Regions from separate parts of the Homo sapiens genome. Here region 2 is linked to region 1. Evidence: fine-mapped expression QTL. Tissue or cell type: whole blood. Region 1 holds a variant in brackets; the other region holds the start of a gene. All regions are shown on one strand. Distances are between the middles of the regions.

What was found. PIP is the estimated chance that this variant, and not a neighbour inherited with it, causes the effect.
Region 2: ADGRE1 starts here. The variant in region 1 is fine-mapped to the expression of ADGRE1 in whole blood (INTERVAL, PIP above 0.99).

What each region holds. Positions count from the first base shown.
Region 1 is chr19:6,936,144-6,944,244 of GRCh38, reverse strand. It overlaps ADGRE1 (adhesion G protein-coupled receptor E1), which reads right to left. Exons shown (of 21, transcript NM_001974.5): 19 at 6,834-7,002; 20 at 6,597-6,701; 21 at 3,795-4,221. The coding sequence ends at 4,216. It overlaps LOC105372256 (a long non-coding RNA gene), which reads left to right and starts at 5,542. Exons shown (of 3, transcript XR_936288.4): 1 at 5,542-5,604. The variant C/A (reference allele first, on the strand shown) is at 3,451.
Region 2 is chr19:6,883,182-6,891,272 of GRCh38, reverse strand. It overlaps ADGRE1 (adhesion G protein-coupled receptor E1), which reads right to left and starts at 3,694. Exons shown (of 21, transcript NM_001974.5): 1 at 3,634-3,694; 2 at 730-792. The coding sequence starts at 3,664. RefSeq lists an enhancer at 3,641-3,700.

The sequences.
Region 1 (8,101 bases):
TTGTATGGCCAAATAATATTTTTTTAATGATTTTTCTTTTCAGACACCAATTTAAAAACTGTTATTGATGAGTTTACTTCCATTAGAACCAGTAAAGTATAATTTTAATAATTCTAGTTTGGGAACTATAAAATACTTAAATTTAAAATACTTTTTAGGTTCTAAAATAATTACTTTTCAATGTTTCAATGTTTTTAACTACTTCAGTGTTTGAGGGGGAAGCACAATAGAGGTGGTCAATACATTTTTTTTTCTGAGACAGAGTCTCACTCTATCACCCAGGCTGGAGTGCAGTGGCGCGATCTCGGCTCACTGTAAGCTCCGCCTCCCGGATTCAAGCGATTCTCCTGTCCCAGCCTCCCGAGTAGCTGGGACTACAGGCGCCCGCCACCACGCCCGGCTGATTTTTGTATTTTTAGTAGAGACGGGGTTTCATCGTGTTAGCCAGGATGGTCTCAATCTCCTGGTCTCATGATCAGCCTGCTCCGACCTCCCAAAGTGCTGGGATTACAGGCGTGAGCCACAGCACCCGGCCAATAAATATTTTTTGAGTGAATGGATCTGTAATTTTCTGTACACAATTATTTGGATTATAAGATAGCAAAGTTATTTCACATTATATTCATGGGATTTGCAGCCACTTAGGGTTTTCCATATATAATATCTGTACATATTTATGGGGTACATGTGATATTTTGTTGCATGCAGAGTTTGCAATGATAAAGACAGGGTATTTGGGGTGTCCACCATCTTGATCATTGATCATTTCTAGCTGTTGGAAACATTTCAAGTTTTCTCTGCTAGATATTTTGAAATATGCAATACAGTGTTGCTAACAATAGTCACCCTACTCTACCAGTGAACTTCAGAACGTATTTCTTCTACTCATGCATTTTTTTTTTTTTTTTTTTTGAGATGGAGTCTCGCTCTGTCACCCAGGCTGGAGTGCAGTGGCACGATCTCGGCTCACTGCAAGCTCCACCTCCCGGGTTCACGCCATTCTCCTGCCTCAGCCTCCCTAGTAGCTGGGACTACAGGCGCCCACCACCACGCCCGGCTAATTTTTTTGTATTTTTAGTAGAGTCGGGGTTTCACCGGGTGAGCCAGGATGTTCTCAATCTCCTGACCTCGTGATCCGCCCGCCTCAGCCTCCCAAAGTGCTGGGATTACAGGCGTGAGCCACCGCGCCGGGCCGCATTTTTTTTTTAATTGTCTCCTTTCTCCCTCTAGCGGAGACATATGAGACCACAAGGGTAAAAAAAATGTACCAAGTATAGCTTGATGTGTGTAGTACGAAAAAAATCCTGCATGGAGGTCACACCTTTATCCACTTACCTTAGAAATATAGAGCTTCTTAAGGTGACTATATTTCAGACCAACATGTAACACCGTTGTACAGACAGACAAAGCCTTAGGCAAATCTTCTCTCAGGAAAAAACTTTATTCAAGTAGTACAGAATTTATTATCCTGATATCTCAGAAGAAATTGAGATCAAAATTCTTTCTTTTTACATTCCAAATTGTTGCAGTCCAATGCAGAATGTTGACCATACTTTGGTTGTTGTATCCATCAGCAATTGCTACAAATAAATGCTTCATAACAAATAACTCCTGAAACTCAGTGTCTGAAAAATGATACTTTCTTGCTGCTCCTCAGTCTGTTTATGGGTTGGCTGAGCAGGTCTGCTGATGTTGGCTGGGCTCTCTCCTGTGATTAAAGCAGCAAGTTGGCATGGTGGCTGGCTGAGGACAACCTCCACCAGTGTAACTGCGGTGACTTACCCTTCATTCTGTGTTTCTCATGTCCCTCCAGCAGGCGGGCTTGGGCATGTTCACATGGTGGGGGTAAGGAAGCAAGGTGAGCAAATGTAATCGTGTAACTGGTAAGAAGGATTACACATACGATTTTGAAACTTACGTTCCAGTCACATTTCCTAACCTTCCACTGGCTGCAGCAAATCTCAAGTCCAACCCCAGAGTCAGACAAGGAGAGAGTTACAAAGTTACAGGAAAGGGATGTGGCTAAATGGAGACCATTATTGGGCCCATTGATGCCATTGACCTATGACAATTGGCTATGGATAGGAGCAGTGCCATCTCTTGCTTCCATCTCTCTAAGAACTATCACCTCTGTATTGAGCACTCTGGATAAGCCAAGCGTTGAAGACTAATTTATCATAGATGAACTCTTGTTCACAAACATGTGTCCCACCTCCCAAGTTAGGCTGCCAAGAATAACAAAGACAGAGCCTCCATCAACTGAGTTTAATATTGTTAACAAATTGTCCAGTGCATGATATGACTGAGCTAATTGAATCCTAACTGCTTAGGTGACTCAGAGTAAATATTATTCTAGTCTCTGTAACCCTAAACTAAGTATTCCTGGCACGAAAGGAAGAGAAAAAGGGGAACAAGGCATCTGGAGAAGGAGCTTTATGGTCAAGAGCTCAAAACCCAGCTCAACGACCTATGTGGCTGTGTGATCCTGGGATAGTCACTTAACCTCTCTGAGCTTCAGTTCCCCTGTCTTCAAAATGAAGAGTAATCATTCTAATCATTCATTCATTCATTCATTCAACATATTTGTTGAGACGCTACTTAATGCAAATCTCTGTACTTACGAAGCTCACAGTCTATGTTGGAGACACCCAACAAAAAGAGAAATCATAATACAGGGTGAGAAAGCATGAAGCTTTTTGGCACACACAAAAATAATGCCAAATTCTACTGTAGGAGATTCAAAGAATGCTTCCTAGCAGAGGGGATGACTACACTGCAACTCAAAGAGACAGAAGACATCAATTGAGTTTTCAGGGAAGTTATTCTAAGAGAAGATGCAAAGGGTCCAAGTCAAGAAGAAGACATTTCTCTCTGGCTTTAAAGACAAGCTCTGCTGTCAGCATGGCAAACAGAAGAATGTTCTACAATAGTGCTTTTCAGACACCCATGGTTATATTCATCCCCTGGGGATGTTAACATGCAAGTCCTGATCTAGGAGGTCTGGAGTGGGGTCTGAGATTCTTCTTTGCTTTTCTAACAAGCTCTCAGGTGATGCTGATGATCCAGGGACCACGCTTTGGATTGGGAGGTTTTACAGTGCCCATAGAAGTGAAAATACCTGCATTTAAACCTTCATCTTCTTCTCTCCCAAGCTCAAGAATTTAAGGATGGTGGCCGGGCGCAGTGGCTCATGCCTGTAATCCCAGCACTTTGGGAGGGTGAGGCGGGTGGATCATCTGAGGTCAGGAGTGCAAGATCAGCCTGGCCAACATGCTGAAACTCCGTCTCTACTAAAAATACAAAAATTAGCCAGGCGTGGTGGTGCACGCCTGCAGTCCAGCTACTTGGGAGGCTGAGGCAGGAGAATCACTTGCACCCGGGAGGCAGAGGTTGCAATGAGCCGAGATCATGCCACTGCACTCTGGCCTGGGCAACAGACCGAGACTCTGT[C/A]AAAAAAAAAAAAAAAATTAAGGATAGGTAGCGATAACTGTGATAGAGAAAATCCTAAATCCTAGCCAAGTCATTAGAAAGTTTCTAGAAAACAGGGAGGTCTTGGTTACCTGAAGGACCTCAGGAAACCAAAGCACTTTCCAAAGGTTGTTGTCACCAAGTGCTTCAACCCTCCAGGGAGTGCTAGAATTCTGCTACATCAAACATCCCCCTACTTACCAACACAACTATTTTTAAGTGTTTGTGCCAAAGTAGCTTATCTGTCTATGTGCCGTCTTGGTTCCCTGGGACTCTCATTACAGTTTTACTGACCATTTCTTTAAAATCACAAAGAGTCTTTATCCTAGGGTAAATCAGTCAGACAGGCGACAAATCATTTATTGAGAGGTTCTCTGTATCAGGCGTATGATAGGCTCTGGAGGGGCATGCTTAGAACCATGCACCAACAAGGGCAGGAGAAAACAAAATGGTAGCCAGGTGTTCTTGGTCATGCCATTGAATTTGGGTCTGTTCTCAGAAACTCTGGAATTGAAGAAGTTGCAGAGCACGAAGATAAAATGGTCGTTTGGAGCAGAAACGCCTGATTTCTCATCAGTGCATACAACCACAGGAAGACCGCCCCCAACATTCTTCCCCAGAGGGTTCTGGGGCTGGTGGGATCCTCATTTCCATGTTAAGCTGAGAAGAGATTTCAGGGTAGGCTCCTGCAGGAAACTACTGTCCTCAACTGTGGCTCCATAGCATATTTGAAAGCAAGAAAGGACTTTAACCCTGTGAGAGAGAAAAGAATTTCCTCAGAGTCTGCAGCAGAATTAATACAAACGTGATTCCAAGGGTCATGTCTACAGGGACAGAAGTATTAAAAATACAGTAACAAAGACTAGAAGGATAAACACTAAAATGTTAAATGCGATTGTCCCTAGTGTGGCAGGCAGAGTTGGAAAACCCAAAAGCCATTCTCAACCTCCTCAGCATTGACAGCGCCCACTCTGGACTTTAGGAAGCCAAACAGCTGTTGGTTCAAAATTTTTTGCCCATATGAGTGGTCACATGATACACTTCTGACCAATTAGGTAAAGGGAAATCTGAGAGTTTTCTGGGCTTTCATTTACTGTTAAAGACAAAGACATGAAAGAAGGGCTTTCTGGTCCTGTCCATCCCTCTTCTTCTTGACTTGAACATAGTCATGATGTCTGGAGCTGTGGCAACCATATTGCAACCATGAAAATACAATAAAATGTCAACATGTTGATGGTGGAATGGAAAACTGGGGAAAACCCAGATTCTTAGTTTAGAGCCTTTACAACACCACTAAGCATAGAACCAGCAACACCAGCAATATTCGCAACACCTAATTCTGGACTTCTTGCAAGGAAAATCATTTCCCTATTTAATTAAGCCACTGGATCTAAGGTGCTTGCATCCAAAAATATGACTCACTGGGATCTGTATGTGGTGGGATAATGGGAAATTTTATTTGTTTTCAATGCTTACAAATGTTTTCTAAAATGTTCTATACCTATACTGTCTTTTTCATTAAAACTATAGTAAACTGCATTATGTTTAAAAATGTATTGCCAAGAGAATATGTCATCCATGATATGGGCAATTTTTCCAGTGGGGTGATTCCTGTGGCTCATTCTGAAATCACTGGACTTAACCTCTATGACATTCGGTTTCCTCATAATGAAAATAGACCAGCTGGGCGTGGTGGCTCACACCTGTAATCCCAGAACTTTGGGAGGCTGAGGCAGGTGGATCACCTGAGGTCAGGAGTTCGAGACCAACCTGGCCAACATCATGAAACCCTGTCTCTACTAAAAATACAAAATTTATCTGGGTGTGCTGGCGGGCGCCTGTAATCCCAGCTACTTGGGAGGCTGAGGCAGGAAAATCGCTTGAACCCAGGAGGCAGAGGTTGCAATGAGCCAAGATCACACCACTGCACTCCAGCCTGGGTTACAGAGCGAGACTCCATCTCAAAAAAAAAAAAGAAAAAAAGAAAGAAAGAAAGAAAGAAAAAAGAAAATAGAGCAGTGATACCTACCTCACTGGACTTCTGCAAGGCTTAACACTGAGATCCTGCTATGTCCGAGGCACTCTTCCAACCCCATTGCATACTGGTTCATCTAATATCTAGTATAACCTTCCAAGGTAAGGATTACCATTATCCCCATTTTATCAGTGAGGAAACTAAGCTATTGAATTATTATTTACTCAGAAAATATTCACTAAGAACTTACTGTGTGCTAGACAGCATTTTAGGGGCGTGGAATACATTGTTGAAAAAAATAAGACATTCTAGTGGGAAAACCAGCTTTGCCTCCATTTGCATATTCATTCCAATATTTCAATATTCCTGAAAATCTACATATATAAATGTTATCCATAATACATAAAAATTTTCTCTATATAAATATACATGTGAAGATATCTATATTTATTTAATTTTTTTTTGAGATGGAGTTTCGCTCTTTTTGCCCAGGCTGGAGTGCAATGGCACAATCTCTGCTCACTGCAACCTCCGCCTCTTGGGTTCAAGCAATTCTCCTGCCTCAGCCTCATGAGTAGCTGGGATTACAGACACCTGCCACCATGCCCGGCTAATTTTGTATTTTTAATAGAGATGGGGGTTTTGCCATGTTGGCCAGGTTGGTCTCGAACTCCTGGCCTCAGGTAATCTGCCCACCTTAGCCTCCCAAAGTGTTGGGATTACAGGTGTGAGCCACCGCGCCCAGCCGGTATCTATATTTAAACTTACATCTTACATTTATATGTATATAATATTATACATTATATGTATATAATAAGTGCATATAAATGTATTTTATAAACATAACATATAAATATGTATTATTTTTAATATGTTACATAATTCATATACAAATGTATCTATGTAAATCTGTTATAAATTATATATGTCTTATTCTTGAAATTTTATTTAAATAGAGAGATAGATAATGTGTGTGTGTCTGCTAATATATACATATAAATCCCCAGTCTTCAACTCCACACTTCATCCATGAGCTAACTAGGGTGGGCACCCTCAGCTCCCATTCAGTACCCAACACGTGGCAGAGCTGAGTGTCACCAAGAGGCCGGCACCTCCCTCGACCAGCACCTGCAGGGAGCATGCAGTCTCTCACCGTCTTGGAAGCGGATGGCATGGAGGACAGCAAGATCCTTGAGGTCTGGGACTGGGAGCTGGGCTTCGTCTTCCCAGTGATCCACCTCTTGTATTCTTCTCGTACCTGGAGAAGGAGACACATCATCCAGATGCAGGGAAATGGTCCAGTGACAGGGATGTTGGGTGGAGGGATGCGGTGGGGAAGGGGGGAGAGGGGGATGGGAGGAGGGGGATGGGGAGGGCAGCAGCTACACACCTGGCCGTTGAGCAGACAGTGGATGAGGAAGATGAAGGCCCCCTGCAGGCTGTTGATGATGGTGAACAGGTAAGCCATGACACCTGCCACAGGTCCAATCTGAAAAATGCCCAGCACCCAGGAGCAGCCCAGGATGAAGAGCTGGGCAAAGGCCTTGAAGGTCAGTAACCTGGGGAGAAGATGTACAGCATGTAAGGCTCTGGGAGGTGGCTATTGTCCTTGCAGGCCACACTTCCAGGAATGGTCTGAGGTGGCCACTCTCCAATTTGCCACCTAGGTGTGGACAAATGTAGGGTGGGGTCTCCAAGCCTAGGTGTTGCAAAATCAAATCCTATAGACATTTAAATGCAATCAGGCTGGGTGCGGTGGCTCAAGCCTGTAATCCCAGCACTTTGGGAGGCCGAGGTGGGCAGGTCACCTGAGGACAGAAGTTCGAGACCAGCCTGGCCAACATGGTGAAAACCCATCTCTACTAAAAATACAAAAATTAGCTGGGTGTGGTGGTGGGTGCTTGTAATCCCAGCACTTTGGGAGGCCAAGGCTGGTGGATCACCTGAGGACAGGAGTTCGAGCCCAGCCTGGTTAACATGGTGAAAACCCGTCTCTACTAAAAATAGAAAAATTAGCCGGGCACGGTGGCAGATGCCTGTAATCCCAGCTACCCAGGAGGCTGAGGCAGGAGAATCGCTTGAACCTGGGAGGCGGAGGTTGCAGTGAGTCGAGACCGTGCCAATGCCCTCTAGCCTGGGCGAGAGAGAGACTCTGTCTCAAAAAAAAAAAAAAAACAAGGATTTGCCACTAGATAGTGGCGGTCACTGCCCAACACTGTGAATGTACGAAAAGCCACCGAGTTACACGCTTTAAAATGGTTAAAATGGTGAATTTCATCTGATGTGAAACTTATTGCTTACATTTTCTGCTATGAGTATGTGTATGTATCAACTTTGTTTTACCTTTTTGTCTTTTTTTTTTTTTGGAGATGGAGTGTCACTCTGTCACCCAGGCTGGAGTGCAGTGGCGTGATCTTGGCTCACTGCAAGCTCCGCCTCCTGGGTTCAAGCTATTCTCCTGCCTCAGCCTCCCAAGTAGCTGGGACTACAGGTGCCCACCACCATGCCCGGCTAATTTTTTGTATTTTTAGTAAAGACAGGGTTTCACCATGTTAGCCAGGATGATCTCGATCTCCTGACCTCGTGATCCACCTGCCTCAGCCTCCCAAACTGCTGGGAATACAGGCATGAGCCACCACACCAGGCCTCCTTTTTGAC
Region 2 (8,091 bases), 53 kb after region 1:
TGGGGAGGCTTCACAATCATGAGGAGCAAAATTATGTCTTACTTACATGGCAGGAGGCAAGAGAGCTTGTGCGGGGATCTCCCATTTATAAAACCATCAGATCTCGTGAGACTTACTCACTACCACGAGAACAGTATGGGGGAAACCATCCCCCATGATTCAATTATCTCCAACTGGCCCCGCCCTTGACACGTGGGGATTCTTACAATTTAAGGTGAGATTTGGGTGAGGACATAGCCAAACCATATCAACAACTACGAACTGACAATGTCTTTCTTCCTTTATCCAGCAAGAGTTTATGTAGATGAGAGTATTTAACAAAACATAAAGAAGTCACTTTTTTTTTGCACATTGAGTTGTAGTTTGAGTAAATTCCATCCCTACTCTCACTACACTACCATTTATAAAGCTCATACTACATACCAGGTGGTTTCCAAAGCTACCTCTTTGAATTAAAGTTTCACAACATCCCTATTGTTATCTGTATTTCACAGCTTGGGAAACTGAAGTTCAGAGAGGTTATGTGACTTATCTGAGATCACACAGCAATTCTAAGCACAAAGGAAAGAGCCTGAAGTGAGAATCAGGAGACTTGCATGTTAACCCTTGCTCTGCCGCTAACTAGCTCCCAGCAAGCATCTGGATGAGGCTCAGCTTCCTGGGATGTTTCCCCGGGGAGAAAACTTTCTCTACCCCTTCAGGCATCTGCATTCTCTCTGGCCAACTTACCCTTTGTGTTTGGTTTCCGTGTGGGTCTTATGTGCCCTTCCCAGCTGTGCATAACACAACATCCTGTGAAGAAAGAAAAGAAAAACACCATGAACCACCAAAAAAAAAAAAAAAAAAAAAAACCTTTTGGGCTCAACCTGCAAAATTACTCCTGGCTTGGCCCCACAGAAATAGGTTTGAAGAGGCTAGATGACAAACCTAGTTAAGGAACAAACATACACTATTTTGCATAAGCTTAACAATGACCATTCCTGGTTTTCTGTACTTTGCTTTTGCTTTTCATTTTGTCTGTCTTTATCTTCTTTTTCTTTTTGATTAAATAGTTCCAGGCTAAGCACTGTGGTGCACACCTATAATCCCAGCCCTTCGGGAGGCCAAGGTGGGAGGATCACTTGAGACCAGCAGTTTGACACCGGCCTGGACAACACAGTGAGACTTTGTCTCTACAAAAAAAAAATTTTTTAAATTAGCTGGGTGGTGGTGACAACTTGTAGCCCCAGCTACTCAGGAGGCTGAGGTGGAAGGATTGCTTGAGCCCAGGAGATAGAGACTGCAGTGAGCCAAGATCATGCCACTGCGCTCCAGCCTAGGTGACCCTGTCTAAAAAAAAAAGTTCTAGCTGATTTTCAAAAACATACATTAAAGCATGCATTCTCAAAAGGGGTGATATATCCTCTAAGGACCCAAACTTGGTTCTCAGGAAGAGATCTTTTTAAGCTTACTCTTTTATGTATAAGATACATATGTATATATAGAAAATACATATATAGGTATACAGTATATCTGTAGTATTAACATTTCATGAGAGGGTAGGGCAATTCGTTTTTCTTTCCTTTTTTTTTTTTTTTTTTTTTTTGAGATGGAGTCTCACTCTGTCACCAGGCTGGAGTGCAGTAGCGTGATCTAGGCTCACTGCAACCACCAACTCCCTGGTTCAAGCTATTCTCCTGCCTCAGCCTCCCGAGTAGCTGGGATTACAAGCACGCACCACCACGCCCAGCTAATTTTTGCATTTTTAGTAGAAACGGGGTTTCTCCATGTTGGCCAGGATGGTCTCGATCTCCTGACCTCATGATCTGCCTGCCTCAGCCTCCTAAAGTGCTGGGATTACAAGCGTGAGCCACTGCGCCCTGCCCATTTTTTAGTGTTTAAAGGCAATGCAGCCCTGCAGCATTTAGGTCTCCTGCACCATCATCATTATCGCCATCATTATCACTATCATCATCACCATCATCATCTTCATCATCACCATCATCATCATCATTATTATCACCATCATCACCATTATCATCATCACCATCACCATTATCACCATCACCACCATCATCATCATCACCACCATAATCACCAACATCACCATCTTCATCGTCATTATCACACCATCATCACCACCATCATCATCATTATCCCTATCATCACCATTATCATCATCACCATCATCACCATCTTCATGGTCATTATCACACCATCATCATCACCATCATCTTCATTATCACTATCATCACCATTATCATCATCATCATCATCACCATCACCATCATCATCACCATTTTCATCATCACTATTATAACCACCACCATCATGATCATTATCATCACTATCATTATCACAACTCTTTGCTGATTATCTTCAGGGCAGAATAGGGAGTGTTAATGGTTAATACCATTGCCAACACCCCAAAATAACAACTCTGCATGCCTACATTTGATGTCCACAGGCCACCTATTTCTTCTAATGTAGCCTGCCAGTCAACAAGTCCCACAGATCTAAACTCCCAAATTCTATCTATTATTACTAACAAAAATTCTTCTACTCATTCATTAATTATTTTAGAGGTAATTCAGCATGCTGTTTAGGCATACAAAGTCTGAAGTCAAAGTGCTTAGGTTTAAAAATCTGGCTTCACCAATTAATGATTGCGTGGCCTTGAGGAAGTTATTTAATCTCTTTGTGCCTCAGTTTCCTCCTTGGTAAAATAGGGTATTCAGATCCACTCTTCAACAGCAGAGGAAACCCATACTTGCTACTTAGAATATGTCCCCAATATCCTCCATTCTTAAATTTGATCCAATGACCAAAACACACAAGACATAGAAGAAAAACCAGAAACACAGAAGATAAACAAGGCTGAGACAAACTGACACCTGAAGAAAGAGAAATAAGAGCACAGGAAGGGTCTATCTCATCCTTCAGGACTCAGCTCGAACTGCCCCTCCTCAACCCCAGACTTCTCCCTTCAACATAACTCCCGACCACATTCTATAACAACTTCTTTCATAGCACTTATCACTACCTGAAATTCCTATGTTTACTTATTTTTTGGGGCAACATAGTATAGTGGAAAAGCTTACAGACTCTGAAGTCAGACTGTCTGGCTTGAAATCCTGCCTCTACCCCTTATTGACTAAGTGGCCTTGGGAAAATTATTTTATCTCTTTTGCCTCAGTTTTCTCATTTGCAAAATAGGACTAATAATGACCCAATGTCATAGAAATGTTGTGACAATTGGATACACTCTATGTTTAAAGAAGTTACAGCAGTGCTAAGTGGGCTATGATCATCTGTGCCTTCTTTCCTGTCTGCTCCTACCCACTAGAATATCAGCCTCAAGAGTGCAGGAACTTAGTCTTTTTTTCTCACTGCTATATCCTCTAGTGCCTAGAACAGCACCTGACACACAGGACTTGCTCAGGTCAAATGAATGACTATAGAGAAAAATCTATCCTAACAGATGGACTTCCCTGAGCTATGGAATTTTGTCAAAGGTTCCCTGAATGAAGGTGTTTGCAGCATCCAGTCTGGACTTATGATCTCTTGGCTGGACCATCCATGGCCCTCCCATTTCTCCTGAAGTCTATTTCCAATCCAGGCCTCCCCTAGCCCCCCATTCAGCCTCACACTCACCCCAGAAGAGGAGCAGGTTGAAGCCACGCATTATGCTGTAGTTCTGTCATTCAAAGAAAAGAAACTTTTCTACTAACGCTGGGTTTTCAGTAACCAGAAGGTGTGCGAAGAGGGGAAGGCGGAGTCAGAGTTGCTCAATGCTGCCTGGTCATCATAGCCCTTTTTGCTGACTTGCTGCAACTAAAAGACAGCCTAGAAAATCCTAATTTCCCCCTTTCTTCACAATAAAGAGAAGTTAATCTGCCTAATGTATATCATTCTCTCTCTCTCTCCTTCCCATGGTCTCTCCCTTTTTCTTTCCCATCAACATCTATCTCCCATCTCTCAACACCTTCTTTCATTGCACCCAATAAAGGAGCTTCCGCTTCCTGCCTCCAGTGAAGCAAATCTCAGCCTTTAGGGTCTCTTCCCAGTCTCCCGTATAAAGACAGCCATCACAACCATCATGTACCAGGCAGTGTGCTAGGCACATTGGCAACAAAGTGTAATTTCATTATCATGTTAACCTTGTAAAGTAGGAATTCCCCTCCCTCCCTCTATTCACCAACAAAATGGAAACTGAGACTTGCAGAGGAGTTATAACTTGTCCAAGATCTCTCAGACTTGAGATTTGAACCCAGGACCCTCTGATTCCAGAGTCAAGAGCTTTAACCATCTTATTTTCCTTCAGATCTCAACTCTGTCTGACGATTATACAGCAACACTTCCACCCCATTCCCAGCTTCCTAACTCTCTCTGGTAACATCTTAGGGTCTCACAAGGGCAGACCCTCAGACAAGGATTCTAGCAAAAGTAGTTTATCAAGAAGGTGGCCCCAGAAAGCACCAGCTGGGGGAGGAGAAAGTGAATCAGGAAAGGCAAAGAGCCAATACTGGGTGTGTCTTCAAATAAGTTACATGGTGAGAAAGTGGAACTTAACCTCCCCAGGGATGACTGGGGAGCGGCATGGAACATACTCTTCAGTTATTCCAACCGAGGGGTGAGGGAGCTGAGGTATTTATATCCCACCTACTGTCAGTCATGGGTTGACTTGAGGCTTGCTCCTAGAGGGTGTCAACCCCTTGAATCTTCAGGCCTGGCCTCCAAGCAGATAGAATGGGCTCCAGTTGATGTAATCCCACTGATAACAAAGTGTAGTGACTGGCAGATATTGAAGCAGTGTCATCCATCTGGGGTAATACCCGAGGTTCATTGCCTCACACCAAGGAAATAGAAAATACAGACATGGCCGGGCACCGTGGCTCACACCTGTAATCTCAGCACTTTGGGAGACTGAGGAGGGTGGATTACGAGGTCAGGAGTTCAAGACCAGCCTGGCCAAGATGGGGAAACCCCGTCTTTACTAAAAATACAAAAAATCAGCCAGTGTGGTATGGTGTTAGGCACCTGTAATCCCAGCTACTCCGGAGGCTGAGGCAGAGAATTGCTTGAACCCAGGAGGCGGAGGCTGCAGTGAGCCGAGATCGTGCCACTGCACTCCAGCCTAGGCAACAGAGTGGGACTCTGTCTTAAAATAAAATAAAATAAAATAAAATAAAATAAAATAAAATAAAATAAAATAAAATGCAGACACACAAAAAATTACTTTTAGAGCAGAGGTTTAGGCCGAGCACAGTGGCTCATGCCTGTAATCCCAGCACTTTGGGAGGCTGAGACGGGTGGATCACCTAAGATCAGGAGTTTGAGACCAGCCTGGGCAACATAGTGAAACCCCATCTCTACTAAAAATACAAAAATTAGCCAGGTGTGGTGGCTCATGCCTGTAATTCCAGCTACTCAGGAGGCTGAGGCAAGAGAATCGCTTGAACCCGGGAAGCAGAGGTTGCAGTGAGCCGAGATTGTGCCATTGAACTCCAGCCTGGGTGACAGAGCAAGACTCCATCTCAAAAAAAAAAAAAAAAAGAAAGAAAGAAAAGAAATTTAATAGGCGAGAGAAAGAGAAAAGCTCTCTCTCCTGCAAAGAGAGGGGGCTCCCAAGTGGGTCTTCCAGTTTCATGGTGAAATGCACGGGGTTTTATAGATGAGCTTTAGGTGGTGATATCTGATTTACATAAGGGCCCAAAGATTAGTTGGACCAGGTGTGCCGTTTACATAGAGTACAAAGAAGCTGGCTGCCCACCCTAATATTTTATTATGCAGATGGGGTCTCTACCTGGCCAGGACCATGTTGCCTGTTCCTTTACCGTACACGTGGTTGATAAAGAAAAGGGAACATGGAGCAAGCCTGCATGTTGAACACGCCTGGCACCCAGGTAGCCTATTCCCATTGGCACAGCTGCCGGCATTCACCCGAGCAAGCTTCCAGCTTGCTTTTCTATGTCTGCCGGCTGATTTTTCAGACTGCTCTTTTTTAGAAAAGAAATTATTTGGCCGGGCGCGGTGGCTCACGCCTGTAATTCCAGCGCTTTGGGAGGCCGAGGCGGGTGGATCACAAGGTCAGGAGTTTGAGACCAGCCTGACCAACATGGTGAAACCCCGTCTCCACTAAAAATACAAAAATTAGCCGGGCATGGTGGCATGCGCCTGTAATCCCAGCTACTCGGGAGGCTGAGGCAGGAGAATTGCTTGAATCCGGGAGGCGGAGCTTGCAGTGAGCCGAGATTGTGCCGCTGTACTCCAGCCTGAGCGACAGAGCAAGACTCTGTCTCAAAAAAAAAAAAATAAAATAAAATAAATGATTTGGGGGCTGCTTTTTATTAAAAGGCAAACCTTACCGAGGACTCTCTTGCCCTCACTCTCTGCCTAAATAACTTCTTTCTAGCTCCCGTATCAGCGTTAAGCTAGGGCATATTAATGTGTTGTTAGGTTATGGGTGTGGGCAGCCACTGATAGCAGCTGTCACAAGGTACAAAGGAGGTGCATAGAACATCCCCGAATTCTTAGAAAGAAAAGCTCCACGTGTTTTTGCCTTCCCCTTTTGTTCTTTGCAAAGCAAACTACCAGCTTTGGAGTTATTGTCACTGGAACAAAGATTCACCAATGGCTTTCTTTTTTTATTTTATTTTATTTTTTTTTCTGAGATGGACTCTCGCTCTGTCACCCAGGCTGGAGTGCAGTGGCGTGATCTTGGCTTACTGCAACCTCCGCCTCCCGAGTAGTTTCTGGGATTACAGGCGTGTATTACCATGCCCAGCTAACTTTTGTATTTTTAGTAGAGACGAGGTTTCACCATGTTGGCCAGGCTGGTCTGGAACTCCCGACCTCAGGTGATCCTCCCACCTTGGCCTCCCAAAGTGTTGGGATTACAGGCCTGAGACACCGCGTCTAGCCAGATTCATCAGTGGCTTTCTGTTTGTGCCTTCATTCTTTCCCCGTTGGCCCCAAGAATACTAGCTGGTGGCGCTTGTGGCTGCAGCATTTACCCAGAGATAACTTTGCCGTGAAATATCTCACCTTTATTATTATTTTTGCATTGCTCTAGTGTATCAACTTTGAAAACAAAAGACATGATTCTATTTATAGTGTTCTGTTTTTAGTAGGGATATTTCCAGATTACTATATTTTACAAAATATGGTATTTTTTACTATATACTATAGTATATTTTACAAAATACAGTAATTCTTGATTGCTGAAAATGTCAGATCCTAGAAAAGTGTAGCATTCCTACGCATGATGTTACTATCATTCTCAAACAGTTGTTGGCTGAAAATTTATCTGATGAATCCAATTTTTCCAAAATTGACGATTCTGATGTTAGTTCTGGTTAGAAATAACTCCAAGAACTGTTTTTATATTTTATTTTCACATTGAAAATCAGTCAGATTTGGCTGGGCACGGTGGCTCACACCTGTAATCCCAGCACTTTGGAAGGCCGAGGTGGGTGGATCACCTGAGGCTAGGAGTTCAAGACCAGCCTGGCCAACATGATGAAACTCTGTCTCTACTAAAAATACAAAAATTAGCCCGGCATGGTGGTACGTACCTGTAGTCCCAGCTACTTGGGAGGCTGAGGCAGGAGAATAGCTTGAGCCTGGGAGGCAGACGTTGCAGTGAGCTGAGATCGCACCACTGTACTCCAGCCTGGGTGACACAGCAAGACTTGGTCTCAAAAAACAAACAAAAACAACAACAACAACAAAACAAAACCCCAAAGAAATATGAATAAAGTGTGTTTTTCTAAAAGAAAAAAAAAAGAAAAGAAGTCAGATTTGCTTCAGCCCCAAAAAGGGTGTTTATGTAAAATTAAGTAAGTGCTGACAGCCAGTTGCACTTTTTTTTTTTCTTAAGGGGAAAATAAGGGACACTGCCTGGAGAGGCTGAACTTAAGAGTCAGCATGAAAATACAGTAAATTCCACCAGGAAGGGGTACAAACAGAGCTGCATTGTGGTTTCCGGAAGCACTGGAGATGAACTCTGGAAACATATTGCCAGAGGTTCAAATCCCACCTCCACTGCTTGCCTCAAATATTCTCATCTGTAAAATGGGCGCATTAAGAATAGGATCTCACCCAGGAGCA